Homo sapiens: one gene and its partners. The protein of the gene in region 3 interacts with the protein of the main gene of each other region in a pairwise test. Each region holds a gene or a part of one and is shown on either strand. Other genes may lie near its edges.

The links.
Region 1: the proteins of EAF1 (region 3) and CEP76 interact in binary tests that used the Homo sapiens proteins (3 or more experiments, as listed by UniProt).
Region 2: the proteins of EAF1 (region 3) and TLE5 interact in binary tests that used the Homo sapiens proteins (3 or more experiments, as listed by UniProt).
Region 4: the proteins of EAF1 (region 3) and MIPOL1 interact in binary tests that used the Homo sapiens proteins (3 or more experiments, as listed by UniProt).

Annotation. Positions count from the first base shown.
Region 1 is NC_000018.10:12,672,125-12,678,750, forward strand, and holds the end of CEP76 (centrosomal protein of 76 kDa), read right to left. Parts: intron 6,319-6,626; coding exon 5,985-6,318; intron 2,630-5,984; coding exon 2,412-2,629; intron 1,380-2,411; coding exon 1,241-1,379; 3' UTR 501-1,240; downstream 1-500. UniProt on the Homo sapiens protein: Centrosomal protein involved in regulation of centriole duplication. Required to limit centriole duplication to once per cell cycle by preventing centriole reduplication.
Region 2 is NC_000019.10:3,059,496-3,067,045, reverse strand, and holds the start of TLE5 (TLE family member 5), read left to right. Parts: upstream 1-4,550; 5' UTR 4,551-4,845; coding exon 4,846-4,872; intron 4,873-5,788; coding exon 5,789-5,886; intron 5,887-7,550. UniProt on the Homo sapiens protein: Transcriptional corepressor. Acts as a dominant repressor towards other family members. Inhibits NF-kappa-B-regulated gene expression. May be required for the initiation and maintenance of the differentiated state.
Region 3 is NC_000003.12:15,423,688-15,430,600, reverse strand, and holds the start of EAF1 (ELL-associated factor 1), read right to left. Parts: upstream 3,004-6,913; 5' UTR 2,822-3,003; coding exon 2,719-2,821; intron 2,280-2,718; exon of another isoform or gene 1,974-2,279; intron 689-1,973; coding exon 594-688; intron 1-593. Other genes in the region: tRNA N(3)-cytidine methyltransferase METTL6, read left to right, coding at 4,090-4,314, 5,512-5,646. UniProt on the Homo sapiens protein: Acts as a transcriptional transactivator of ELL and ELL2 elongation activities.
Region 4 is NC_000014.9:37,194,046-37,200,956, forward strand, and holds the start of MIPOL1 (mirror-image polydactyly gene 1 protein), read left to right. Parts: upstream 1-3,891; 5' UTR 3,892-4,059; intron 4,060-6,911.

The DNA of each region.
Region 1 (6,626 bases), on a different chromosome or scaffold from region 3:
TTTTTTCTGAGATGCAGTCTCGCTCTGCCTCCCATGCTGGAGTGCAGTGGCGCGATCTCACCTCACTGCAACCTCTGCCTCCCAGGTTCAAGCGATTCTCCTGCCTCAGCCTCCTGAGTAGCTGGGATTACAGGTGTGAGCCACCGCACCCGGCCTAATTTTCGTATTTTTAGTAGAGACAGGGTTTCACCATGTTGCCCAGGCTGGTCACGAACTCCTGACCTCAAGTGATCCACCCACCTCGGCCTCCCAAAGTGCTGGGATTACAGGCATAAACCACTACGCCGAGCCTTACAAAATTTTTAAAACGTGCTCAATTTTAAAACAAAAATCAGTATGGAATCACTCACATATGCTTGTTTTCAGTGGTCTCACACAATCAATCTCTTATTTAGATTAGTCACATATATGCTGATTTTTTTATCACAATGAAAGAAAAAAGGGTTTCAGAAGATAGAATCCATGAAGAGGCTAATAATGAATCCTCTGACCACAGAAAATCAGTGATCGACTGCAAGATCACAATTTATCAGTATCATAACAAAGAGGTATAATAAAGTTTTTCTAAAATACCCAATTCATTTTTACAACAAATCACAGTGATAAATATTTCTAAATGATTCATGTACTTTCATATGAGGTTATTAATATTTATGCTTTTCTGGTATTAGTTTTTTCCTACTCTTGCTTCAAGGTCCAACCATAAATTTCTGGACAGTCTCAAATATCCCAAGGACCACGAATAAACCACAAAAGTGGTAATTCATTAACATTTATTTTCACCAATGCAATAAATAAATCTGTCATGAGGTTAATTTCTCCTAATCTGTATAAAATAATTCCATTAACCTGTGAAAAGTAATGATCATACTGATTTGTCTAGGGCTCAAACCCTTAGACAAACATCTCTTTGATTACCTGTTTGTGTAAAGAAAACTGAATGCATTTTATATTAATATTTAAACTACTGATAACTGTAAACAAAGTAGCATTTATTAAAATAGAATATACACTTAATTTATACTAAATTCCAGGGAGATTTATACAAGTTTTTCAGCCTTAATTTTTAAAGGAATGCATGATTTTTTTTAAACATTACCAGTCAAGTATATACAAAATTGAAGTATGCCATTCAAGCCAGATTGTGATTTTAAAATAACAAACCTCTAAATAGCTAAGTAATGTACAATGTGTAAAATTCCAATTAAACACAGGTATAAATCTTATATAAATATTGGCCCTATAATACCGAGCGATATTTACAAGCAAACATGATCCAAACAGCACATGCAGATTCAGGGTAAGTAAATACTCGGACACGAACTGCCAGTCGCACTTGGTCTCCACGGCAACAGATTATTTCTTCACAGAAAGGAGATCTATTTAAGAAAAAAAAAATTATTCAATTAAGAAGTGACCATACACTTTAATTCCTTATTTGCAAGTAAATCAGTATTTAAAATAATTTTTTCAGGCTAGGCGTGGTGGCTCATGCCTGTAATCCCAGCACTTTGGGAGGCCGAGACAGGTGGATCACCTGAGGTCAGGAGTTCAAGACCAGCTTGGCCAACATAGTGAAACCCCGCCTCTACTAAAAATTACAAAAATTAGCCGCGTGTGGTGGCGGGCGTCTGTAATCCCAGCTACTTGGGAGGCTGAGGCAGGAGAATCGCTTGAATCCAGGAGGCAGAGGTTGCAGTGAGCCAAGAATGTGCCACTGCACTACAGCCTGGGCGACAGACTGAGACTCCATCTCAAAAATAAATAAATAAAATAATTTTTTCAAATTCTGTCTCTGCTATCAAAGACACTGTAATTTTGGTCAAGCTATTCAAATTATAGACTATTTCCTTATAGTCCAAACAAAATCAGAGATACCTGAGACTGCACCAAAATCACTGGGCAAATAATCCCAGACTATCTAGGGCTACATTTCAGACCAAATGAATCAAAATCTGTGGCAAGGAGGGTCAGTCATTGTAAAAGCTCCCATATGACTTGGATGTCATTTCTAAATAACTACCAGATTAGGCTGGGTGCAACGGCTCACACCTGTAATCCCAGCAATTTGGGAGGCTGAGGTGGGAAGACTGCTTGAGCCCAGGAGTTCAAGACCAGCCTGGGCAACATAGGAAGACCCCCATCTCTACAAAATAAAGATAAAAAAAATAGCCAGGTATGGTGGCACATGCCTGTGGTCCCAGTTGCCTGGGAGGGTGAGGTGGAAGGGTCACTTGGGCCCAGGAGGTCAAGGCTACAGTGAGCCATAACTGTGCCACTGTACTCCAGCATGGGCAGCAGAGCAAGACCTTGAGTTAAAAAAAAAAAAAAAAGGAAATTAAAAAAACCCCTGCCGGACTGATCTGTAAGACTCCTAAACTGAAAAAATGATTCCGTAAATTACACCTTACCGAAGACATGTGGCAAATGCACGTCTTGCATTTCTATACACAAAATGTATTGGGAACCCTTTAAATGTGTGACCATCAGGTACAGCCCTTCTTATGGCATCTTGAAATTCTTCATTGCCTGCTGATATACTTGTTGTACGCTCAAATTCATAAGAAGCCAAAGCTGGTGATAAAAGGTAGGAGAGCTGGTCTTCCCAAACAGTAGTGAGGCCAAGATCCTATGAGCAATCAAGAGAAAAAGAAAAAGTGAAATACATTAATATTTTTAAAACCAACTAAATAAAAATGTTGATTATTTTAATGTATACCAAGAAAAGATTTTTAAAAGCTATCATAATATTTTAATAATAATAATTATAGGGATACATAGAAATAAAAATCAGATAAAAGGAACTATAGGTGATCAGATTTTACTTTTTAGAGAAACAACCAAAAAACATTCAAAACAATGTTCACAAAGTCTCCAAATCCTGTACTTCTCTAATATCTACTACAAAATACTATATGAAATAGTCCTAATATGGAGGACAGGTATAATTCTTATATTTTGAGATATTTTACTTAACTTTAAAGAGTTTAGGCCGGGTGCGGTGGCTCACGCCTGTAATCCCAGCAGTTTGGGAGGCTGAGGTGGGCGGATCATGAGGTCAGGAGATTGAGACCATCCTGGCTAACAAGGTGAAACCCTGTATCTACTAAAAATACAAAAAATGAGTTGGGCGTGGTGGCGGGTGCATGTAGTCCCAGCTACTTGGGAGGCTGAGGCAGGAGAATGGTATGAATCCGGGAGGCAGAGCTTGCAGTGAGCCGAGATCGTGCCACTGCACTCCAGCCTGGGCAACAGAGCGAGACTCTGTCTCAAAAAAAATAAATAAATAAAATAAATAAAAAAGAGTTTAGTAAGAATGAATCTGTTTACTAAAGACTGACTCTTCCTACCATAAACTCAACTACAGAGGTGAGAAAAGTCAACAAATTAATTCTATGTGATTAAACAAATATTTACTGAACATGTACTCTATAAAACTTATATACTGTAAGAGATAAAAAGATGAAGACATTTTATAGGCCCTTAGGGAGCTTAAAACATATTTCTATGGAATGTTAAAAACAACATGATTCCATTTATTTTTTATTTTTTTAAATTTTTTGAGACAGAGTCTTACTCTGTTGCCCAGGCTGGAATGCAGTGGCGCGATCTCGGCTCACTGCAACCTCTGCCTCCCAGGTTCAAGCGATTCTCCTGCCTCAGACTCCTGAGTAGCTGGGACTACAGACACCTGCCACCATGCCCGGCTAATTTTTGTATTTTTAGTAGAGACGGGCTTTCACCATGTTGGCCAGGCTGGTCTCAAACTCCTGACCTCAAGTGATCCACCCACCTCGGCCTCCCAAAGTGCTGGGATTACAGGCATAAGCCACCGTGCCCAGCCCATGATTCCATTTATAACACCAAAAGACCTATTGATATCTGGACACATGAAGTTAAAAATAATAATATTACAAATACAAAAAATTCTCAAAATTCTAGATATTTTGATTATCATAATGGATCTTTGGTATTTCCTCATTTTATATTCAAGGTTTTAACTCATCACAAATGGTCTCAAAGATCCACGATTAACAATGCTTTTCCTGCGGCAAAATGTGAACTTTTGCTGATTTACAGGCACCTTAACTTAAATAGTGATCAACACTGGCATCTATCACAGCTTTGTTTTCTTTTTCTGTAAACAGTAATTCCTTTTTTTTTTTTTTTTTTTTTTGAGACAGGGTCTTACTCTGTCACCCAGGCTGGAGTGCAGTGGCACAATCTCGGCTCACTGCAACCTCTGCCTCCCCGGCTCCTTTCACCTCAGCCTCCGAGTATCTGGGACTACAGGCATGCACCACCACACCCGGCTAATTTTTGTACTTTTTGTAGAGATAGGGTCTCACCACGTTGCCCAGGCTGGTCTTGAACTCCTGAGCTCAAGCAATCCACCCATCTCAGCCTCCCAAACTGCTGGGATTACAGGCGTGAGACACTGTGCCTGGCCAAAAGTAATTTTTATAAGATATTGCTTTTATTTGTAAGCAGAACCTAAGAAAAGAAAGCTAAAGCCAATACAAGTGATGGAAGGAAAGAAAAAGTAATAAGGGGCATTCATTTCCAGCAATATAATGGACCAGAGGTCCCCTGACCAACTTTTGCTGAAAACATATTACAAATGCCAGGTTTTCCAAAATGTATGTTTAAATGCTTTGATAAGTTGACAAGTGAATAAGAAATATTTAGAGGCCAAAGCTAAGAGTAACTGGGAACCCAGAGAACATGTTTGATAAATCAGTTTGCCTTTGATAGCCCCAAAGAACACAGAAAACAGGGCTCACCCAAGGTGAGGAGTGGAACAGGGAACCCTAAAAGGTGAATCAGAAATATTTTGTAGGCATTTTGGATTCTAGTCCTTTGTTGGTGATATGTGTTACAAACAACTTTTCCCACCCCACAGCTTCAATCTCTTAATGTCTTCTCTTGATGAGCTTAAGTCTTTAAGATACATTAATCTTTTCCTTTATGACTAATACTTTTTATGTCTTCTTAAAAGCACTTTACAAAGGAAATCTACATGCTATTTGACAAGAGGCTTGATCTGGCTGGGCGCAGTGGCTCACAACTGTAATCCCAGCACTTTGGGAGGCTGAGGCAGGTAGATCACTTCGAGATCAGCCTGGCCAACATGGTGAAACCCTATCTCTACAAAAAATACAAAAACTGGCAGCGTGGTAGCACATGTCTATAATCCCAGTTATTCAGGAGGCTGAGGCAGGAGAATTGCTTAAACCTGGGAGGTAGAGGTTGCAGTGAACCAAGATCACGCCACTGTGCCAAGATCACGCCACTGCGCTCCAGCCTGGGTGACAGAGCGAGAGATTCCATCTCAAAAAAAAAAAAAAAAAAAAAAAAAAGAGGTTTGATCTCAAAAGTAATCAGGGAAATGCAAATTAAAGCCAGACGTCTACCCAGTTGAGTACAACATGAAAACAAACAGAAACCAACCTGGGGAGAAAAATGAATATGAAAAAAGTATAACCCAGTATACATATTTTTTCTTTAAAAAATAATAGAGATGATGTTTCACCATATTCCCCAGGCTGGTCTTGAACTCCTGGGCTCAAGCGATCCACCCACCTCAGCCTCCCAAAGTGCTGGGGTTATAGGCATGAGCCATCAAGCCCAGCCTAACCCAGGATTTTTTAAGGGGCAAATATGTGAATAAGCATTTCACAAAGACAAAATCCAAATAGTGGTATTCAGCAAAAATCTTGACTCTAAGGGATGTGAACAAGTTCACCATTCTTCATTTCTAGGAGGAAGTAATTCATTCTATAAGTATTAATTAATTTGAAGATTTTTGAGTCTCAGAACTTGAACTCTCATGACTTTCAAAATTATAAGCTTCATAATAGTAGGGACTGTAGTTGTTTTGTTCAGGGCTAGAATAGTGACTGGCACTATCACACACACCAAAAAACAGTTAAATACATAAATGAAAAGAAGTATGAAACTACAACTATTTCAGTGTGAATTACCTTCCTGTGTTCTGACACCAGGAGCCTCAGCTGCATTTCAATTTCATTACTTGTTACTGACGCGTCAATTGTGGATGCACACAGAGGTGGAAAGGGAGGAAGGGATGTTGTAGCTCCAGGAGCACACACAGATTTAATTGCTTCCTCACTCATGGGTTTCCATTTGGATTCATCGTTCAAATCAAATACACAGGTTTCTACTGCATCAGAGGGTTGACAATTTCCCAGGAACATCTGATGGTTGAAAACACAACCAATTGTTCGATATGGGTACAGTGGTTTGGGCTGTTCAGCAACTGGAGGTTCATCAGGATTGGTAGGTTTATGGATGTACCTAAAAAAATTAAATAATTTTATATATGAGAACTTAAAAATTAAAAAGGCAGCATCTTACTGAGAAAATTATTCTAACACTTAAGGCCATAACTACTTCTCAGAACTACAGTTTAATACTTGTTTTTCTTTTTTATATTTCCACAATTTGATTACTCTGTATTAATTGTATGGTACGTCTTTACAATATTGAAACCAACTCTGTTAACAACAGAATACATTCTATGTATACTGTTAAGATCAAAGGCCGGATGCGGTAGTCCCAGCACTTTGGGAGGCCGAGGCAGGGGGATCACCTGAGGTCAAGAG
Region 2 (7,550 bases), on a different chromosome or scaffold from region 3:
ACGCTTTTCATCCCGGATACTCGAGAAGCTGAGGTGGGCAGATTGCTTGAGCCTGGGAGGTCGAGGCTTCAGTGAGCCGAAGTCACACCACTGCGCTCCAGCGTGGGTGACAGAGTAAGAACCCTGTCTCAAAAAAAAATAAAAAAGCTAAGGGGATGCCAAATACCTAAGTCATCAGGATAAACACTATTTTGATGCAATCTACTTTTATTTTTTGAGATGGAGTCTCCCTCTGTCGCCCAGGGTGGAATGCGATGGCGCTAACTGAAGAATCTTGCTCTAAAACCTCCTGTGGCTCCCTAGTGCCCTCCAGGTAAAATCCCAGCTCCTCAGCCCAGCAGCACGTGCTGCCATCGTGTCCCGGCCAGAAGCCACACTGCAGAGTGCTCAAAGGCCCAAGGTCAAGATCAAAGGCCTGGGATAACATCGTGGTTCTGCCCCCTACCCACTTGGCCAAGTCACTTCACTTCTCTGTGACTCACTTTCCCCATTTTTTTTCGTTTTCTTTTTTTTTATTTTTTATTTTTGGAGACAGAGTCTCATTCTGTCGCCCAGGCTGGAGTGCAGTGGCACGATCTCGGCTCACTGAAACCTCCGCCTTCCGGGTTCAAGCGCTTCTCCTGCCTCAGCCTCCAGAGTAGCTGGGATTACAGGCGCCCACCACCACGCCTTAATTTTTGTATTTTTAGTAGAGACGGGGTTTCGCCATGTTGGCCAGGCTAGTATCAAACTCCTGATCCTCAAGTGATCTGCTTGCCTCGGCCTCCTAAAGTGCTGGGATGACAGGCCTGAGCCACCCTGCCGGCCTGTTTTCCCCCCATCTCTAAAATGGGTGTGACAACTGTACCTAAAGGTTAAAGTGCTTAAGGCAGCCCCTGGTGCGGAGCAAAAACATACAGACCTGTGTGGCTTGGTTGATTATTTATAGTGTGGGCCACCATTCTGGGCTGCCTTCTATGCAGAAAAAAAACCTATTTTCTAAAAACGATGATTTCACAATGACTCTCTCCTTCACAGGCCTAGGTCCCTGTGGGTGGCCCAGCCCTCACCTCACCGTGCTCAAGGTATCTGTGTCCAGTTCTGCTTCCCCTGACAGTGTGGGGGCTTCGAAAATGGGGCTGTTTGGTCACTGGGCGGGCACACTGATACCGGAAGGCGCCTGCCTAAATAAACACTGGCAGGTGGCCTCCCAGGAGAGGGGGTGTCTGGTCCCCACGGCAGTGGGGGTGGGGTGGCAGGGGTGCTAGCGGCAGGACTGGCTTCAGGGGCAGTCTAGGAACGCAGTCTCTCAGGGCCCTGCAGGAAAAACAAGGGTGTTGCGGTTGGTTGAAGGCTTGGCTGTTACTAAGTAGTATTAATCTCTGTTTCTTTGTTTCTTTTTTTTTTGAGACAGAGTTTCGCTCTTGTCGCCCAGGCTGGAGTGCAGTGGCACAATCTTGGCTCACCGCAACCTCCACCTCCCAGGTTCAAGCAATTCTCCTGCCTCAGCCTCCCAAGTGGCTAGGATTACAGGCGTGAGCCACCATGCCAGGCTAATTTTGTATTTTTAGTAGAGACGGAGTTTCTCCATGTTGGTCAGGCTGGTCTCAAGCTCCTCACCTCAGGTGATCCGCCTGCCTCGGCCTCCCAAAGCGCTGAGATTACAGGTGTGAGCCACCACACCCGGCCACCAAGTAGTAGTAATCTTAAAAATCCAAAATCCTAATCCTTTCTAGCCTCATCTTTTTTTTTTTTTTTTTTTTGAGACAGAGTCTCACTCTGTCACCCAGGCTGGAGTACAGTGGCGCGATCTTGGCTCACTGCAACCACCACCTCCCAGCTTCCAGCGATTCTCCTGCCTCAGCCTCCAAGTAGCTGGAATTAGAGGCGCCCGCCAAAACACCCCGGTAATTTTTGTATTTGTAGTAGTGACGAGGTTTCACCATGTTGGCCAGGCTGGTCTCGAACTCCTGAGCTTGTGATCCACTGGCCTCGGCTTCCCAAAGTGCTGGGACTACAGGCATGAGCCACTGCTCCCGGCTTACAAAAAATGTTAAAATTAGCTGGGCATGGTGGTGCACTCCTGTAGTCCCAGCTACTCAGGATGCTGAGGTCGGAGGATCACTTGAGCCCAGGAGTGGGAGGCTGCAGTGAGCTATGATTGCACCACTGCACTCTAGCCTATGCAACAGAGGACTGTGTCTGAAAAAATTTTTTTAGGCCGGGTGTGGTGGCTCGCGCCTGTAATCCCAGGACTTTGGGAGGCCGAGGCAGGCAGATCACGAGGTCAGGAGATCGAGACCATCCTGGCTAACACAGTGAAACTCCGTCTCTACTAAAAATACAAAAAATTAGCCGGGCGTGGTGGTGGGCGCCTGTAGCCCCAGCTACTCGGGAGGCTGAGGCAGGAGAATGGCATAAACCCGGGAGGTGGAGCTTGCAGTGAGCCGAGATGGCACCACTGCACTCCAGCCTGGGCCACACAGTGAGACTCCACCTCAAAAAAAAAATTTTTTTTTAATAAAAATATTAAAACACTGCTTTAAAGATTATTAATCTTGATCACTGAAGGCTATCACCCTTACCTGCCAAGGTAAGGAGCCTGGGGTTCCAAGTCTATTTTACAGATGGGAACACCCAAGGCCCAAATCAATTGCATTCATTCAAGGGAGCAGGCTGCCTAGTGGATGACGATGATGAAGAGACTGTGTTTCGCACCTGCCAAAGGGGGACCTTAATGTCATAGCCTTATTTCAGTAGCCTCTTTGGGACCTGTTCTCTGCGTGGCAGAGAGAGGGATCCTTTAATAACCGCCACCAGGTCCCATCCCTCCTCTTCCCACGGCTCTCCAGGATTCCCACCTCACTCAGAGCAAAAGCCCAAGTCCAGGGCCAGGCGCAGTGGCTCACACCTGTAATCCCTGCACTCTGGGAGGTGGAGGCGGGAGGATCACCTGATGTCAGGATTTCAAGACCAGTCTGGCCAATATGGTGAAACCTGTCTCTACTAAATATACAAAAATTAGCCAGGCGTGGTGATGCGCACCTGTAATCCCAGCTACTCAGGAGGCAGAGGCAGGAGAATCACTTGAATCCGGGTGGCAGAGGCTGCAGTCAGCCAACATCACATCACTGCACTCCAGCCTGGGCAACAGAGTGAGACTCCATCTCAAAAACAAACAAACAGCTGATCACGGTGGCTCACGCCTGTAATCCCAGCACTTTGGGAGGCCGAGGCGGGCAGATCATCTGAGGTCGGGAGTTCAAGACCAGCCTGACCAACATGGAGAAACCCCGTCTCTACTAAAACTCCAAAATTAGCGGGGCGTGGTGGCACGTGCCTGTAATCCAGCTACTCGGGAGGCTGAGGCAGGAATCACTTGAACCCAGGATGCGGTGAGCTGAGATTGTGCCATTGTACTCCAGCCTGGGCAACAAGAGCGAAACTCCATCTCAAAAAACAAACCAACCAACCACCAGGTCCCGTCCCTCCTCCTCCCACAGCCTTCCAGGGCTCCTACCTCACTCAGAGCAAAATCCCAAGTCCTCCCCAAGACCCACAAGTCCTTGCTGGACTGGCCTGCTTCACCAGCTACAGAGTTAGCAGGGCCCAGTGCAAAAGAAAACTCAAAGGCCCCTTGTTCAAAAATGATTAGAAATCTCAAAATGCAGCAGTAAATATTAACCCAAGCACAAGCCCTGCTGTGGGGTGGGGGGGCCCTGGACAAAAGCACGAAGCCCCCGGCCCTGCCTCCCTCCGGCCTTCCTGACCTCCCCCCGGGCACTCTGCTGCCAGGCACAGTCCTGCCCCAGGGCCTTTGCACCTGTTGGTCCTGCCTCTGACTACCTCTGTACCCCATCCCCCTGTTCTCCCTCCTTCTTCAGGTCGCTTTAGGGGTGGAGGAAGCCGTCTCTGATCCTCCCTCCCACCTCTTTAACTTTGCACCTTCCTACCCTGCCATTCTCCCGGCTGGTTTTTCTGCAGAACTGTCCCCACCATCTGACCTGCCAGGAATTCAGCTTGTGAATTTGTCTCTGTCTGTCTCCAGGCACCACCACCAGGGCAGGGACCCACCCCCGCCCCGCCCCACCCCAGGGCCCTGGAGCAGCGGGGCCTGGCACACAGTAGGCGTTCTATAAATGTGTCACAAGAATGGCTTCCCTCAGGAAGGCGGCATTACCGCTGCCTTTCTGCAGAAAAGGAAACTAAGGCTCAGCAAGAACCACCGCCCAGCCAGAGCCAAGGTCACAGAGCACGTCCGTGGCACGCGTCCAGGTCGTGCCACAGCAGGGCCGGCGGCTTCGACGCGGGCAGCCGGGTCCCTTTTCTTTGACAGATGGGGAAACCGAGGCCCGGCCGGCTGCCGGGTAGGAGAGGGTGGCGGGGGCCGCTGCCCGGGGCGGGGGCGGGCCGGGCCCAAGGTCACCGCGGCGGGCGGGCCACGGGGAGGCGGGCCGGCGTGGGGATCCGCAGGCCTCCCCGGGCGCGCGCGTCCCCCCCCTCGGCGGCGCGCACGGGGCACGGGCGGCGGCAGGTGGAGCCGAAGCCTCCGCAGCAGCCGAGCCGCGGCCACTGCCGGCGTCGCCGCCATTAGACAATAGCGGTGGGGCCGGGGAGCGGGGAGGCGGGCGGCGGGGAGGGGCGGGGAGGGGCGCCGGGCGCGCAGGAAGCGGGGCCCGGGGCGCGCCGGGGCCGGGCGCGCGGGGAGGGGGCGCAGGAAGCGGGCGAGGCCGGGCGCGGGAGGCGGCGGCGGCCCCGGGAGCTGCCGATCGGCGCCGGGACAAAGGCGCGGCCGCCCGGCGCCCCCAGCAGCCCGAGCCGGGGCGCACAGCCGGGGCGCAGCCCGCGCCCCCCGCCGCGATTGACATGATGTTTCCACAAAGCAGGCATTCGGTAAGCGGGGCCCGTCCGGCCGGCGCCCCCACCCCGGATCCGGGCCCTACGCCCCCGACCCCCGGCTCCCGGCCCCGCGCCCCCCAACCCCCAGGCCCGGTGCCTCCGGCCCGGCGCCCCCCCCAACTCCCCGGCCCTGTCTTCCCTCTCCAGCTCCCAGCCCGGCGCGACCCCCCTCCCCTCCTGCCGCCGGCCCCCGGACACCCCCCCTCCAGTTCCCGATCCACCCCAGCTTCCGGGCCCCGAGCCCCCCCGCCGCAGCTCCCGGCTTGGCGCCCCCCCCCCCCAACCCGCCGGGACAGTCAGGGCCTCGGACGGCCTTGGCCTCGGGCCTGGGGCGCTCCGGAAGCCCCGCGAGGCACCTCTAGCCCGGGGATCCTTTGGGGGCCTGTGGTGGGGGGGGTGATCCGAGGCGCACCCCTCCCGGAAGAGCGTGTCCCCGAGGAAGGGCGCTGGGAATCTGGGGTTGGGCCCCCCCGGAAGATTTCGAGCACCGAGAGAGAGACCCCTCCCCCAAGAGGACTTTGCAGGGAGGAATCGCTGCCCCCCAACTTGGGGAGGGGGCTCCCTAGGGCGCGTTTCTACCCCCCTCGGATGTGCACTCCCTCCCGGCGCTTTGGAGGGCGGTAGAGGGCGCACCCTGCCCCCCATCTAGGGCGGGCCTTAAAACGCACCCCCACTGCCTGGGGGTGGCGGGGGACGGGGCGGCTCCGGGCGCACCCACCCGCTCGGCTTCCCCCGGGAGAGGCGGGGGGCAGGAAGCGCGGGTGGGGTCGCGCCAGGGGCCGTAAACACGGGCCCAGGAAGTGGGGCAGGAGGGGGGGCGCCGCAGCTGCGCGGCCGCTCCCTCCTAGCCGGCCCTTGAGGGGGGTCCAGCCCACGCCTGGGCCTGACCCGGGCCGCCCCATCCCTACAGGGCTCCTCGCACCTACCCCAGCAACTCAAATTCACCACCTCGGACTCCTGCGACCGCATCAAAGACGAATTTCAGCTACTGCAAGCTCAGTACCACAGGTGAGCTGGGGGACTGGGGGTCCCTGCGTCCCGAGAATGTGAGTCCCCCCATTTCTTCTGCGCAGATGGCAAGGCTGAGGCCTGGAGATTGGGAAAATAATATATGCTAGACTCTGACCTAATCACTTGACAAATACTGAATTCATTTATTTTAAACAGCCCCATTTTGTAGAGGAGAAAACCGAGGCACAAAAATAGTTAAATAATTTGCCCAAAGATTCAGCTGTGTGGCTTCAGAGCCCCTCCCTCCTCCCCAATACCCCCAAGTCCCCCATTGGATAAAAGACCTTCCAACAATTGGAGTTACGGCACGGACTCGCCATCCCTCAACCCCCAAAACAGAAACATTCTGCAGCCTGGTCATCTCTCTCTTTGCCCAGTTTTGGAGAAAGGGTTCCCAGCACCCGTCAGATTCTCCAAGGTGCTGCTTCTTTCAGAAATCTGGCGTTTCTGAAGAGCTTGCCACGCTGCGGTATCTAAGGGGAAGGAACTATTTAGTCCTCTTACACTTAAAGAAACTTAAGCCCAGGCCAGGCGTGGTGGCTCATGCCTGTAATCCCAGCACTTTGGGAGGCCGAGGAAGGTGGATCACTTGAGGTCAGGAGTTCGAGACCAGCCTGGCCAACATGGTGAAACCCCGTCTCTACCAAAAATACATAGTTAGCTGGGTGTGGTGGCGGGCGCCTGTAATCCCAGCTACTCGGGTGGCTGAGGCAGGAAACTTGCTTGAACCCGTGAGGCGGAGGTTGCAGTGAGCAGAGATGGAGCCACTGCTCTCCAGCCTGGGTAACAGGGAGACTCTGTCTCAAAAAAAAAAAAAAAAAAAAAAAAGAAAGAAAAAAAGAAACTTAAGCCCAGAGATGTTATGATGTTATTTCCTCGGGGGTGTCCATAGCATTGAGGAAGTGGCAAGGCTGAGGTTTGCACCAGGTCTCTCTCCTGGTTTAAGGATATAGGTTCTCGCCTGCCCTGCTCTGGAGGGGCACGCCGGGCCTGGGAATCTGGAGAAAGTCAGGCTATGCTCAAACCCCCGTTTGGCCTTGGGGCCCTCTCTAAACTGAAGCGTGCCCACCCCAGAAGTGTTCCTGGAAGGATCCTGGATTTCCTCCAAGTAGAAAGGGGAATCTCGATTTTGTTGTTGCTGCTGCAAATATCCCACCTTTTTGGGTACTCCCTGTGTGCTCAAGACCGTTCGTGCCTCCTCGTGCTTCATCCTTCCTGTCGTCCGACTGTCGTACCCATTCTCAAGCTGGGCAAACTGAGACACTGACAGTCGAAGGTGCTGGAGTCAGCTTTCCATGCAGGCCCCAGAAGCTTTTGTGCGGGTTCCTCGATATGAAGGGTTGGATACCGCCTGGTGAGCCCCGGGGCTGACCTGATTCCACAGGGAAGGGATCAGATGGCGGTCACAGTGCTGTGTGACCTCTGCTAAGCCGGAAGCCCTCTCTGAGCTTTGGGGTCTCCATCCGCTGGGCCTGGGCTTCCTGCTGTCCAACGAGGGACCCTACCATATCAGAGGCACACACCGGATGTTCGAGGCGTAACAGCCCCTGGGTGGCCAGACCATCCTATTTTTCAAGAAAGGCCAGAAATGCAGGCTTTGGAGTGAAACTTCTTTTTTATTTTATTTTATTTTTTTGAGACGGAGTCTTGCTCTGTCGCCA
Region 3 (6,913 bases):
TTCTGTCTGGAGTTGCTTGGGAGAAAAGCTATATCTAAAAGAGGGGCTAGGTGTCCAGACAGGAACCTTGTCTACTCAGTAGCAGATGGGGGAAAAGGAAGATTGGGGAAAACGACGAATAATCTTTTTTTTTTTTTTTTTGAGGGGGAGTCTCACTCTGTCGCCCAGGCTGGAGTGCAGTGGCGTGATCTTGGTTTACTGCAACCTCTACCTCCCAGGCTCAAGCGATCCTCCCAGCTCCGCTTCCCAAGCAGCTGCAACCACAGACATGTGCCATCACCCCCAGCTAATTTTTTGTATTTTTGGTACAGACGGGGTTTCACCATGTTGCCCAGGCTGGTCTTTAACTCCTGAACTCAAGCTATCCACCCACTTCCACCTCCCAAAATGCTAGGATTACAAGAATTATTTTTAATCAAGCACCTGCCTAGCATGAAGTCCACCCCACCCCACTCCCCAAAATTACTTTTTTCCTTAAGTTGCCACTTTAGAAATCTAAACATTTTTAAAAGTAGGAAGTTTAAATTGCAATAATATAAAAGACAAAGATTCATTGTGATCTTACATTAAAAAAAAAAATGAAATAAACTCACAGGGATATGTGGCAGTGTAATTGTGACTTCATCTCCTTTGCCAACTTGAAGCTCTCCTTCACAGGAAGTGTCTATAGATGCTGGTTTAAAATCATCTAAAGGGAAAGGAAAAAAAGCACTTACCCACCAGGTTACTTATAATAAGGGTTTCCTGGGCATCTCCATTTAAGAATTAAAATTATTACTCAGATGAATGGAAAATAAAAATAATTTAGAATTCTTAAAAAACTGTTTCGTTATGGAAAACTTCAGATACACAAAAGTAGAGAGAATCGTACAATGAGACCTGGTATACCATTATCCAGTTTCAATTATTACCAACTCAGGGACAATCTTGTTTCATCTACACCTCCACATACTTTTCCTCTGACCCCCTTTTGATTATTCTAGAGGGAAAAAAGAATTTACAGGCCATTTTATTAAACAAAGATATTCCCTTCTCCCAAGGGAGAGAGGAAAATTGTCTCATCATCCATAATAAGTTGCTTTTTTAGGGTTGTGAGGATCAAAAGTAACAGCATATGAAACAGATTCTGTGACTGTAAACTCTATATGAAATATGAAAGGCCACAGCATCATCAAAAGCTGATTTCATTCCGCATAGAAACTGTCAAAATTAGGATTTGCCATACTCAAGTTCCATAGCTGTTTTTTGTTTTTTTTTTTTTTTAATAGTGATGGGGTCTCACTATGCTGCCCAGGCTGGTCTCAAACTCCTGGGCTCAAGCTATCTGTCGACCTCGGCCTCCCAAAGTACTGGGATTATAGTGTCAGCCACCACTCTCAGCCAGTTCCACAGCTTTAACAAAGACACTTCGTAGATGTTCATAGCAGACAACTGAACTGTATCTCCGCAAGTTATCCTGCTCGTGTTTCTAAACTGCAGTTAGAATACAACATAATAGCCATCTTAATTCACATTCACACCTGCCTCAAACTGCAGGACAGGTGCACACATGAACTATATGATTTAAATTCCACATTGCCCTTCACCAAAAGAAAACATCAACTTAGTAAACTCTTCAGGAAATGATGTTCTTATCTTATTCCCATCTCTTCTCTCTGAAAGAGCTGGATCTGCTGTCAGTAGGAAGCATAGCAATGGCATGGCAAGTGACTACACAAAGATGGGATTTCATTATCTAAAACGCCCTCTTCACATGTGTTGAGTCACATCTATTAGGTCCTCTGACAAAAACAAGTCTTAACAACAGCGTTAGCACCACGGAAACCAGAAGTTCATGAATCACGGAGGGATGCTCTGTCAGCCAATTCCTAACTGCCAAACCTTCACCCAGGACATAGGGTGGAAGTGCACTCTCTCAACAGCGTCTATAATTATGTAGAAAAAGGTCCGGCATAATGACTATTTGGACATTCCTTACGCCTGCTCTCTTCTGCTTCCAAACGTAGACCAATCTTTAACCTATCCCAGGCTCACGAACTCTGATTTGACTCTTTACCCACAAGGAACTTGGTCTGGAGGAAAAGCCCGGGTGGTATAGGTGACCTCAAAAGACATCCAAGTCAAATGAAGCACAGAAAGGAGATGGAAGAAGACTCTGATGAGGCGCAGAGAGGATGCCAATTCTTTGGCTGTAGAGGGGACAAAGCACAGTATTTGGGAGTCCAGGACCAAGTCGGAGGAGAAAAGCAGGGAAGAGAATGGGTTCTAAGGCAGTGGATGAGGCTCATAACAAACAAGAAGCGTCTTTTAAATGTGGAGAACCCTGATGGGAGCATCGGAAAGGAGGGGAGGGGTTTCGAGGGAGAAGTGGACCCGGATAAGAGGGGGGAGGTTTGCCTTGGGGGAGGGAGGTTTGCCTTAGGGGCGAGGTTGGGGGCGGGGAGGGATGGAAATGGAAAGAGGCCAAAGACCTTTGGAACTAGTGTTTGAGACTGTGAGGTAGAAGAATAGTAGGGAGTGACGAAGATTTGGGAGAAATAATCTGGGTAAAAGAAGGGACAAATCGATGTCCCAAAGGATTTGGGGTTCGAGAGAAAGTAACTGACGCTGGCAGGGGGTTCCCTGGAATCTGAAGGGCCGAGGGAAGAAAGGAAGGAGTCAAGGTTGATATGTGGCGGCTGGAGCGGCCGAAGGGAACCGTGGGGAGCGCTGACTTACAACGAATAGTGTGGAAGGAGGCCCGCGGCCGCTTCTCGAAGCTCTCCCCGAGCCTCAGGCAATGTTCCTCGCGGTCCAGCAGCGGGTTTGCGGTCCCATTCATGGCCCCGCACCTGCCTCGCACCCAGATCGGCGCTCTCCCGGTGCAGCCGCGATCCGAGCTTCTGGCGCTGGCGTCTGGGAGGACTGTGCTTCCGGGCCACCGCTCTGGAAGACAAGGAGAGCCGAGCCGGCACCCACCCGGGTCCAGAAGCAAGTTCTCTCCTCTGCGTGGGGGTGAGAGAGGAATCTGAGGAGGCAAGGCCGTGGGACTTCCGGCGTCGGGTAGGAACTTCCGGGTTCCTAGCGGAAGTGGCGGGGGCGGTGCCATGGCAAAAGAACTCCCGGATAATCCGAATTCGTGGTCCTCAGAATTGGTTTAGGGTTGTTTCGCGGTTCTTCCCGTATTCTGCCTCCGAGGCCCAGTGGGGCTGGCTGTGGGGTGAGTGCGCCTGGCCCTAGCCCTGCAGGTGAATTTAGGAACTGATGACGGTGAGCCCTGAGCGTGGCTGACTAAATTAACGCGGGTCGGCTAGCCATCATGGACGCCCTCCTCAGGGTCTAGGGGCCCATGCAGCCTAGTCTATCCTGAGGGTCCTGAGATGGATCCTCGGGACCTCAGCCACGCGTCATTGGGTCTCTTTCTCCACTTTGCCCGGTGATGGCGGTGCGAGGGTCTCAGTCCCTGCAAAGTGACGCTCCCTCTGGTTCCTATGACAGCCTCTTGTGAGTGTGATCAGGAAATGAGCCCACCCAGGCTTAGCTTCATTTCCCCCGAAAAAACGGAGGTCCGACCCTTGGGAAACGATGACCTCACTTGTATCTGACAATTGACCACCCGCTTCCAGCTAAGGCCATTGTGGTTTTTAAGTCACCCCTTTCGCGGGCACCGAAAATTGAGGAATATTTTCTTCGCAAGGTTTCCCAGTCAGTTCTTGAGAGCGTCCTTTTTCGTAAACTAAATCGATTTATTGTAATAGTTGACTCATCTGGTTTGAATAAAAGTATGGTGCATGAGATAGTCTGGCCACTGAAATGAATGTAAGCCCACTGAAGGTAGGGACTGTGTGTTTGTCTTCTTTGTGACCTCTCATATAGCGGGAAGGATTTTTTTTTGTACAGTCTGCATCTCATAAACATTTGGTGAATTGAACCTGGCGTCTTGAACTGTAACCACTAACCAGAATCTAATTCTTTTCTCTGCGAAGCCCCCTGTGCTGTTTGAGGCGTGAAACTCACCTCAGGAAATGTATCTGATCCATTAGCGTGGATTCATATTATTTGGTGATGGAGAATCTTCAGCTGTGTTAAGTGTTACCGTCAGTTTCAGAGATGGCTTCTTTGCAAAGGAAAGGGCTGCAGGCAAGGATTCTCACCTCTGAAGAAGAGGAGAAACTGAAAAGAGACCAAACTTTGGTGTCTGATTTTAAACAGCAGAAATTGGAACAAGAGGCTCAGAAAAATTGGGATCTTTTTTACAAAAGAAATAGCACTAATTTCTTCAAAGACAGACACTGGACCACCAGAGAGTTTGAGGAGCTAAGATCATGTAGAGAGGTAAGCTAATATTACGCCTTATCTGAGCTGTTCTTCATTTAAAATGTGAAGAGGGTGCCATGGCTCATGCCTGTAATCCCAGTACTTGGGGAGGCCAAGGCAGGCGGATCACGAAGTCAAGAGATCGAGACCATCCTGGCCAACATGATGAAACCCCGTCTTTACTAAAAATACAAAAATTAGCTGGGTGTGGTGGTGCTCGCCTGTAGTCCCAGCTACTTGGAAGGCTGAGGCAGGAGAATCGCTTGAACCCGGGAGGCGGAGATAGCAGTGAGCCGAGATTGTGCCACTGCACTCCAGCCTGGTGACAGAACGAGACTCTGTCTCAAAAGAAAAAAAAATGTGAAGAGGTGTGCTGTATTGCATTCCTAGGGAGAGTGCGAAGTAGAGAATTTAAGAAGCCTATCAAAATGCTTTGCGTTTTAGGAGAGAAATATACTGTTTGGTCTTAACACCAAAGTTTTAGCAGTTTCTGGTTTGGTTAACATATAGGAGAGAGAACTTTAGTGGGTGTTTTCTATTTCTTTAAGCTGATCTGATAGTTGTAAACATTATATATTAAATTCAAGAGCCAGGTCTGGTGGCTATTGCCAGCTACTCCAGAGGCTGAGGCAGGCGGCTTGTGCCTGTGAATAGTCAACATGAATTAGCCAAGCCTAGGCAGCATAGTGAGACCCTATGTTCTGAATTTTAAAATTTTAAACATTAAAAATTTTAAAAACAAAAATATAAATTCATGCTAAGTGACTTCAGTGACAGATTCAGAATAATATAATAGTTAATGTTAGTAACTATTTACCATGGCTGTTTTCTACATGGCCTATCATTTGACCCTTATACCGGCTCTGTGAAGTGTAAGTATTAGTATTGTACTCATTTGTCCCCAAGGTAAAATTGAGGCACAGAGCTGTTTAAGTGATTTACCCAAGGATAGAATGCAGGGGAGGAGTTGAGATTTGGGTGCTGGCAGTTTAACTCCAGAGCCGAGTTAGCCATTGTGCTGTTTTTTTCCTCCACACCAAATTGTTAATGTTGGATGACAAATGAAGTACCAGTATTAGCTTTTGCTTATTAGTTCTCTTGTTGATCGTCTGCTCCATGGGGTCGGAGACCTCTCATATTCTGGACCTTTTAGTTTGGTTTATTTCTTCATTATGCAAATGTGATATACTATAACTTTGAGCTGTCTTTCCCCAGTTTGAAGATCAAAAGTTAACAATGCTTGAAGCTGGCTGTGGGGTTGGAAACTGTTTATTCCCACTTTTAGAAGAAGATCCGAATATCTTTGCCTATGCCTGTGATTTTTCTCCAAGAGCCATTGAATATGTTAAGGTTGGTGCACCATCTATGTATTCTGCTGTGTTTCTGTTTTCTTGCCGATCTTGTTTGATCTGCCTTTTTTATTCATTTGCCCAATTCTAGTCTTCCCTGGAGCTAACCAGCTATAGTCACCATACATGTAGTTGTCCTGCTTACATACATATACAGTGCATGTAGAAACACAGCTTTATTCAAGAAAAGCAGGAAAAAATACCATAATAACATCCATATAATTAACATCTTTTGCTTTACAATTTTTCTTTGCTGAACTATTTTAAAGTATATTACAAATGTCAAGACATTTCACTCCTAAATGTTTGCATACATCTCCCCTTAAAAAAGGCCTTTTTCTACACAACCACAATAAGTTTATCATATTTCACAAAAATAACTATAATCTGGCCTGCCATGTTGGTTCGCACTTGTAATCCCATCAGTTTGGGAGCCTGAGGCTGGTGGATAGCTTGCACCCAGTAGTTCAAGACCAGCCTGGGCAACATGGTGAAACCTTGTCTCTACCAAAAATACAAAAATTAGCTGGGCATGGTGGTGCTTACCTGTAATCCCAGCTAATTGGGAGGCTGAGGTGGGAAGATCACTTGAGTCAGGGAAGTGGAGGTTGCAGTGAGCCAAGATTGCAGCACTGCACTCCAGCCTAGGTGACAGAGCAAGACTGTCTTTAAATAAACAAATAAAATAACATAATCCCCCAATGTTATTAACATCCATTCCAAATTCAGATTTCCCCAAATAGTTCCCGGTGTCTTTTAGTTTTATTTTTTACTTTTTTTAGAGATGGGTTCTTTGTCACCCAGTTGAAATGCAGTGGCATGAACATGGCTCACCACAGCCTCAACCTCCTGGGCTTAAGCGATTCTTTCACCTCAGCCTCTCAAGTAGCAGAGACAATTTTTTAATTGTTTGTAGAGATGGGGTCTCACTATGTTGCCCAGGATGGTCTCAAACTCCTGGGCTCAGGTGATCAACCTGCCTCAGCCTCCCAAAATGCTGGGATTACAGGTATGAGCCACTGTACCTGGCTTCCAGGTGTCTTTTATAGCTGGTTTTTGTTTTTGTTTTTGTTTGAGACATGGTTTCACTCTCACCCAGGCTAGAGTGCAGTGGCCCAATCACAACTCACTGCAGCCTTGACCCCCCTGGCTCAAGCAGATCCTCCCACCTCAGTCTCCCAAGTAGCTGGGACTACAGGCATGTGCCACCGTGCCCAGCTAGTGTTTATTTGTTTATTTATTTATTTTAGAGATAAGGTCTCACTGCG
Region 4 (6,911 bases), on a different chromosome or scaffold from region 3:
GCAAAGTGCTATGAGACTGACTTGAAAATTTAAAAAATAGCTTTATCCATCATATCTATGTTCATTAATCTCATGTCTAGCCCAGTCTAGAATGCTTCCTTGCATATGACTGCTGGAAAGCTACTCTAAGATGCTTCCCTAGCAATTCAAACTCATTCTATCAAAACTGAACTTACTTATTCACCAATTTCTTTAATACCATCAACACTTTCCTCTTTCTCAACTAGTTATTTACCAGATTTTGCAAACTATTTCCTACTTCTTCAAGCTACCCTTTTCCATCTATCGTGCTTTACCACATACATTTTATTATTTATTTATTTATTTATTTATTTTTTGAGACAGGGTCTAACTCTGTCACCCAGGCTAGAGTGCAGTGGTACAATCTCAGCTCACTGCAACCTCCACCTCCTGGTTCAAGTGATTCTCATGCTTCAGCTTCCTGAGTAGCTGGGATTACAGACATGTGCCACCATGCCTGGCTATTTTTTGTATTTTTAGTAGAGACGGTGGGGGGAGGTCCCACCATGTTGGATAGGGTGGTCTCCAACTCCTAGCCTCAAGTGATCCACCCACCTCAGCCTCCCAAAGTGCTGGGGTTACAGGCATGAGCCACAGAGCCCAGCCTTTTTATCGTTTTTCAATTAGATTAACTAGTCTTGCAAACTTGAGAATTTTGATTCTGAAACGTATTTCTAAATTGATGAATGAAAGTGTAAATCTAATCTCATCACTCCTGTTTTAACTTTCAAAATTCATTGACTATAGAATCAAGTCCAAGGTACTTAATTAGGAGATCATTTATATTGCCTGGCATGGTGACTCATGCATGTAATCCGAGCACTTTGGGAGGCCAAAGTGGGAGGACTGCTTGAGGCCAGGACTTTGATACCAGCCCCAGCAACATAGTGAGTCCCCAACTCTATTTTTAAAAAAGACCTTTCATAATCTCTCCAACTTCATTTCCCACCACTTTCCATGTTAAATTTTATACTGTGATATTAAATTGCTTATAGCTCCTTACAGTATCTCACTCCCATATTGATTCCTTTATAAGGAATTCTGTTTTCTCTGCACCTCCACCCTCACCTCTTCACCTTGCTAAGTCTTATTCATACTACAGGAGGCATTATCTCCTTCAGATTTTCCTGACTCTGTCTTCCTCATCCCCTGAACTCCCCTCTCCCAAAGCCATTTCTCAGTTTACACAGTGTGATGGTTAATTTTGTCAACTTGGCTGGGCCATGGTGCACAGATATTTGGTGAAACGTTATCCTGGATGCTTCTGTGAAGGTGTTTTTTTGATGAGATTACCATTTAAATCACCAGACTTTGAATACAACAGATTACATTCCATGTATGTCCAACTACAATTCTTTTCTGAGGCTTGCCCGCCTCTTCCCTCAGATTTTGGACTCACTAAAAGTCCACAACTGCATGAGCCATTTCCTTACAATAAATCACTGTCCCTCTCTCTATGTAGTCTCTGTGTATACACACATATCCTGTTTGTTCTGTTTCTCTGGAGAACCCTGATTAATACATATGGTATTCTCAGCTACTTGTGTGCCTAATTGTTATTCATTATTTTATTTGCAGAACTGATCAGTGTGTGACACACTGCAGAAGCCTAATATTTATAGACTTGAGAATATTAATGATCTGACATTAACAGACTTGATAATATTAATAATATGACATTCTTTTTCTCCCTGTAACGAAAGAGTGGTTCATTTTCTTCTTCTCATCTTCATCCATATTTCTGTAAAAGTCCAGCTTGTATGAGGTATGAGGACATAGACAATATCTTTGATAATCATTTTGAGAAAAGAAAAAAGCTCTAATTTATCTCTTTCATTTCTTATAGACAGGCAACTGTTAGAACAATAGAAAATGAAGAAATGGATATGTTGGTTATGGTGGTGGTGGAGGGGAGTAGGGGAAAACTTACCTGTTGTGGTATCAAAAGTTTAGGGAAAGAACATTAATGAGTTACTTCAGGTATGTTAGGGAAAAAGGAAAAAGAATAGGGAGAATTAGTCCTAATGTTTGAACTCACTGCATAAAACAGAGAGAGAGAGAGAGAAAATCAGCTTACTAAAAGGAAAGAAAATATGAGGTTTCTCTTTATGCCAGAGACTGTAAGCACCCAGATAATGGGCTTTAAAAAAAGGAGGAAATGAACTTTACTCAATGAAAAATATTATAATTTTTCTCTAAATTTATTCTACTAATTCATTACATGGTTTGAATGTTCTCATTGTGGTAGTCACTATCCTGTTTTATTTATTATTTCCTAGCCAGGAAAATCAACTTTTTCCTTTGTTTTACACATAATTTGATTTGGCCCTAAGCCTTTGCACAAGCTATATACTTCCTGATTGGAGTATTTGCTCTGATAAACTGTACACTCTTTGTTTTTGTCTCATAGATTTTTATGGTACTTTATGTTCATAAATATGATTCAAATCCTGACTGAAGTAAAGCAAAAAAGAAAAAAGCATTTCAAAGCTGAATCTGTAACAAACTTCTTGAGAACACTGTTCATTACAGCATACATAACGAAAATTTGGTGAATATTATAACCTCTGTTGTTCCAAGTTAATCTACGTCCAACTTTTCCATTTTGTTAGTTTTCACAGCGTCATGCTCTGTCCCCCAGGCTGGGGTGCAGTGGCGCCAGCCATCGTAGCTTATTTCAGTCTCCACCTCTGGGGCTCAAGCGATTCTCCCACCTCATCCTCCCTAGTAGCTGGGACTACGGGTATGCACCATCATGCCCAGCTAATTTTTTTGATTTTTAATAAAGTCAAGGTCTCGCCATGTTGTCCAGGCTGGTCTCGAACTCCTGGGCTCAAGCGATCCCACTGCCTCAGCCTTCCAAAGTGTTGGGACTACAGGCGTAAGCCACCGCGCCCGGCCTTTTTCAGTTTTTTAAACTCTCTTTTGTACACTTACTAAAGGATAAGTTCCTTTCATTAACTTTAACCACAAATTTAGGAACCCGTCAGCACCTCATATTATGCCTATTCTCTGGGGTGTATTAAAAAATATTATTGCTTATTACTCAGCACCCAGAAGAGTACCTGGCACATGGTATGTGGTCACTAAGTATTTGGTGTCTGAAGGAATCATGAGTAACAGGAGTTAAAGTGACATTTATAAAACCAATTCTGAACTATGGAACAAAAAACCCAAATTTAAATTACTAGCAGTTAATTATACCATTCTTAGTTCACGGAGGTAGGCCAATTGAAAACTTTGGACATTTTTAAATTCTGTAAGGTTTAACATTTTTTCTTAGAGGATTCACATATCGTAATCTCATCCAGCACTTCAGTCAAAAAAAAAAAAAAAAAAAAAAGTCACCAGCTCCAAGGTTTTAGTGTGAAACGTTCTTTGGCCAGGATCTAGATAGTACTTTTGCTCACTCAACCGGAGCCCGATCTGGTGCCATTTTCACTTGACCGCCGCTTCGAAACACGTCCCTCCCACCTCTCATCCCAAACCACACACAAAGAAGGAAAGCACAATTTCGACAGGTCTTGGGAAAACTCGACGAGGCCAAGTATGAGGCCACAAGACACCGTTTTTAGTTCCGCGTTCTCCCTCTTCTAATCCTATTAGGTTTTGTCCAGACAACGTTTTGCTCTTTCAGAAGAGAAAGAGCGTTCTGCGCTCGTCGTCTTGGATTCGACAACCATAAGCATCCCGTTAGGGCAACCACCGCAGCAGACTAAGTTCGACTACTTTCTCTCCAAACTCCTCCCGGGCCTTCTTCCCAAGCTCTCTCTTTCTCCTGGAGGCCCCGCCTCGCGGCCCGGCAGCGCGGCACGCGCATGCCCGGTGCTCGCCGCTTGCGCTCTCCCCTGCGGCGCGCCGCCGCCCCGTAGGCCCCACGCGCCGCCCCGCTCCTCCGCCGGATCGTCTGTGGGTGAGTCTCGAGCCAGGAGGCTCTGAGCCAGTGGCGATTGGCTGACGCGGTGGCTGCGCACTCGGCCTGAGAAACTCGGCAAGCGCGCAGTGTCGACTCCCCGGTCTATGCCAGGCGCATCTCAGGTAAACGGTTGGGCAGGGAGGTTTGGGCGACGGAGAATGATAGTGGTGGGCACAGATCAGCCCTGGAGTTTTCGGCCGCAGACTTTTCCTTGGAGAAGGAGAAGGGGCCCCGCGGAATCTGTACTTAGTGAATGCTGACCCCGCGTGGCCGGGAGTGATGGGGCTCTCTCGAAGGTCAGTGTCGTGGGGTCCTCAGGTGGCAGACAGCTCTTTCTGGGTATGGTTTTGGTATTGTCTCCAGTTTCCTAATACTGGACCTGAGCAGCTGAGCATTTATTCAAGGGTGTATTTTTTTTGTTTTTTTCCCCTTAAGTCGCGGTTAGTCAGAAGGTTCCAGTCCTCGCTCAACCTCTGATCGACTCTGTGCCCATGAGAGAGTCGTTTTATATTTCATTTCTCACACGTGGAAGTGTGGGCGAAGAATGAGGGGCTTCTTTAAGCGCGCTAAGCCATGCTGTAAAAAGATACTGTTAGAATTTTTTTTTTTCTTTTTTGATTCACAATGTCCCTGGACCTGGTGCAACGTTTGGGAAGCATTTTAAGCTCTATGGATGGAGGGAACAAGACAGCCGCATTATTAGACAAGGATGGTAGAAAGGAACAACTTTCCACAAACACACGCGTTTGGAAAAGCTCCTTTGAGCATTTTATGCAGGTTAAATCACAGTGGTAGTAGATAGAAATAAGCCAAAACAAAGGGCCAAACAAAACTACATTTCAAGGAGGTGTTCTTTTCTTCCCCAGATAACTTGAATATACTATCACAAATTATTGGCGTTTCAAAGTTTTTCCTTGTGATCTGGTATGGAGTTCATCTAAAATGACAATTACATAATCATTCTATGCAATCGTATGCCAATAAAATTAATTAAAACAGTTTAATTTTTAATGTGAGGAATAGGAATCAAGACATGTCATTGATGGGAGGTAATGATGGCAATCAGCAAAATGAATGGGAGATGTATACAATTTTCCTTCAAAGGAGTAGAGTTTATAGAGATATTTTTATTGCGTTAATATTTAAAGTATAAAGACATACAGAAAAGTGCATGAATCGTAAGTGTACAGCTCGGTGAATTTTCACAAAGTGTAAATACCCATGTATCCAGTATCTAGATCAGGAAAGAGCATTATTGCATCCCGGAAGCCCCACTTCATGGTTCCAAAGGTAATCATTATCTGGACTTCCAACATTATCAATGAATTTCACCTATTATTTACTTTATATAAATGGAGTAATATGGTATTTAGTCCTTAGTTTCTGATTTTTGCTCAATATTTTATTTGTGAGATTTATTCAAGTTATGTAGCAGTTTGTTATTCTCATGCTGTATGTATAGTATTTCTAGTTTTTGGCTATTACCAATAGGGCTGCTATAAAGATTTTTAGAAATATTTTGATGAAATTATGTATACTTTTTTTTTTCTTCTTTTTTTTGAGATGGAGTCTCGCTCTGCCGCCAAGGCTGGAGTGCAGTGGCGCGATCTCGGCTTACTGCAACCTCCGCCTCCCGGGATCAAGCAATTCTCCTGTCTCAGCCTCCCGAGTAGCTGGGACTACAGGTGCCTACCACCACGCCTGGCTAAGTTTTGTATTTTTAGTAAAGACGGGGTTTCACCTTGTTGGTCAGGCTGGTCTCAAACTCCTGACCTCAGCTGATCCACCTGCCTCAGCATCCCAGAGTGCTGGGATTACAGGTGTGAACCATCGCGCCTGGCCATATGTACATTTTTATTGCGTATATGCCTACTAGAAAATTACTGTGTTACAGGATAGGCAGATGTGTGTTTGTGGTATACACTACTGAAAAGTTTTTCATATTGTGTCAATTTATACTTCAGTGGCAGCTTGAGAATTCTGGTTCCTCCAAATGCTTGCAACATTTCACACTGTCTTTTTCATTTTAGCCATTCTAGTAGGAATATAGTGACATAACATTGGGGTTTTCCCATAATTTCCCTAATGACTGATGGTATTGAACACATATTCATGTGTTTACTGGCATTTGGATATCCTCTATTTCTGTAAGGGACCAGACAATAAGTGTAGGCAGCCCTCGCTTTGTAGAGTTTCAGCTAACCAAGTAATGTGTGAAGCTCGGACTACCTGTATTTTAGGTTGTACAGGCTGTACAGTCTCTGTTACACATTCTTTTCTGTTTTTTTCCTCTTTACTTTGTTCCCAACCCTTTAAATATGTAAAAACAATTCTTAGCTCATGGGTTATACAAAAACAGTTGTTAAAAGATAACTTTAGGCACATGGAAATTTTAGAGTTTATATGAGCATTCAGCAATTTCATAAATTGGGTATCACCAGACCACAAGTTATTCAAGACTCCACCAAGAGGGTGTGAGGGGAAAACTTTTATAAGGTGTTTATGGAAACAGAAAATATTTGATTGGTAACAGTGGAATGTCTCTAGTTAGAAGTTGTTTGGTGGTTTCTGATTGATTAAACTCAAGTTTAGTTTTACTGTTTACATTGAGTTGGGTTTTGGTTTGTTTACATAGGAACCCAAAGTGCTGGAGCTGTCTCAACCTAATGGTTTCCCAGTTAGTTTTTTTTTTTTTTTTTTTTTTTAACACAGTCCTCTGGCTGGATTTGAGTTGTGGGCCATAGCGTACTAACCCCTGCTCTATTGAAAAATGTTTGTTCAATTTTTTGCCAATTGGTTGGATGTGAAATCAGTAACTGAGATGGGCTATATTAGAGAAATATAGATCCATAATACTATATCTATCTATGTGTGTGTGTGTGTGTGTGTGTGTGTGTGTGTGTGTGTGTGTGTGTGTATTTTTTTTTTTTTTTTTTTTGAGACAAGGTGTACCTCTGTCACCCAGGCTGGAGTG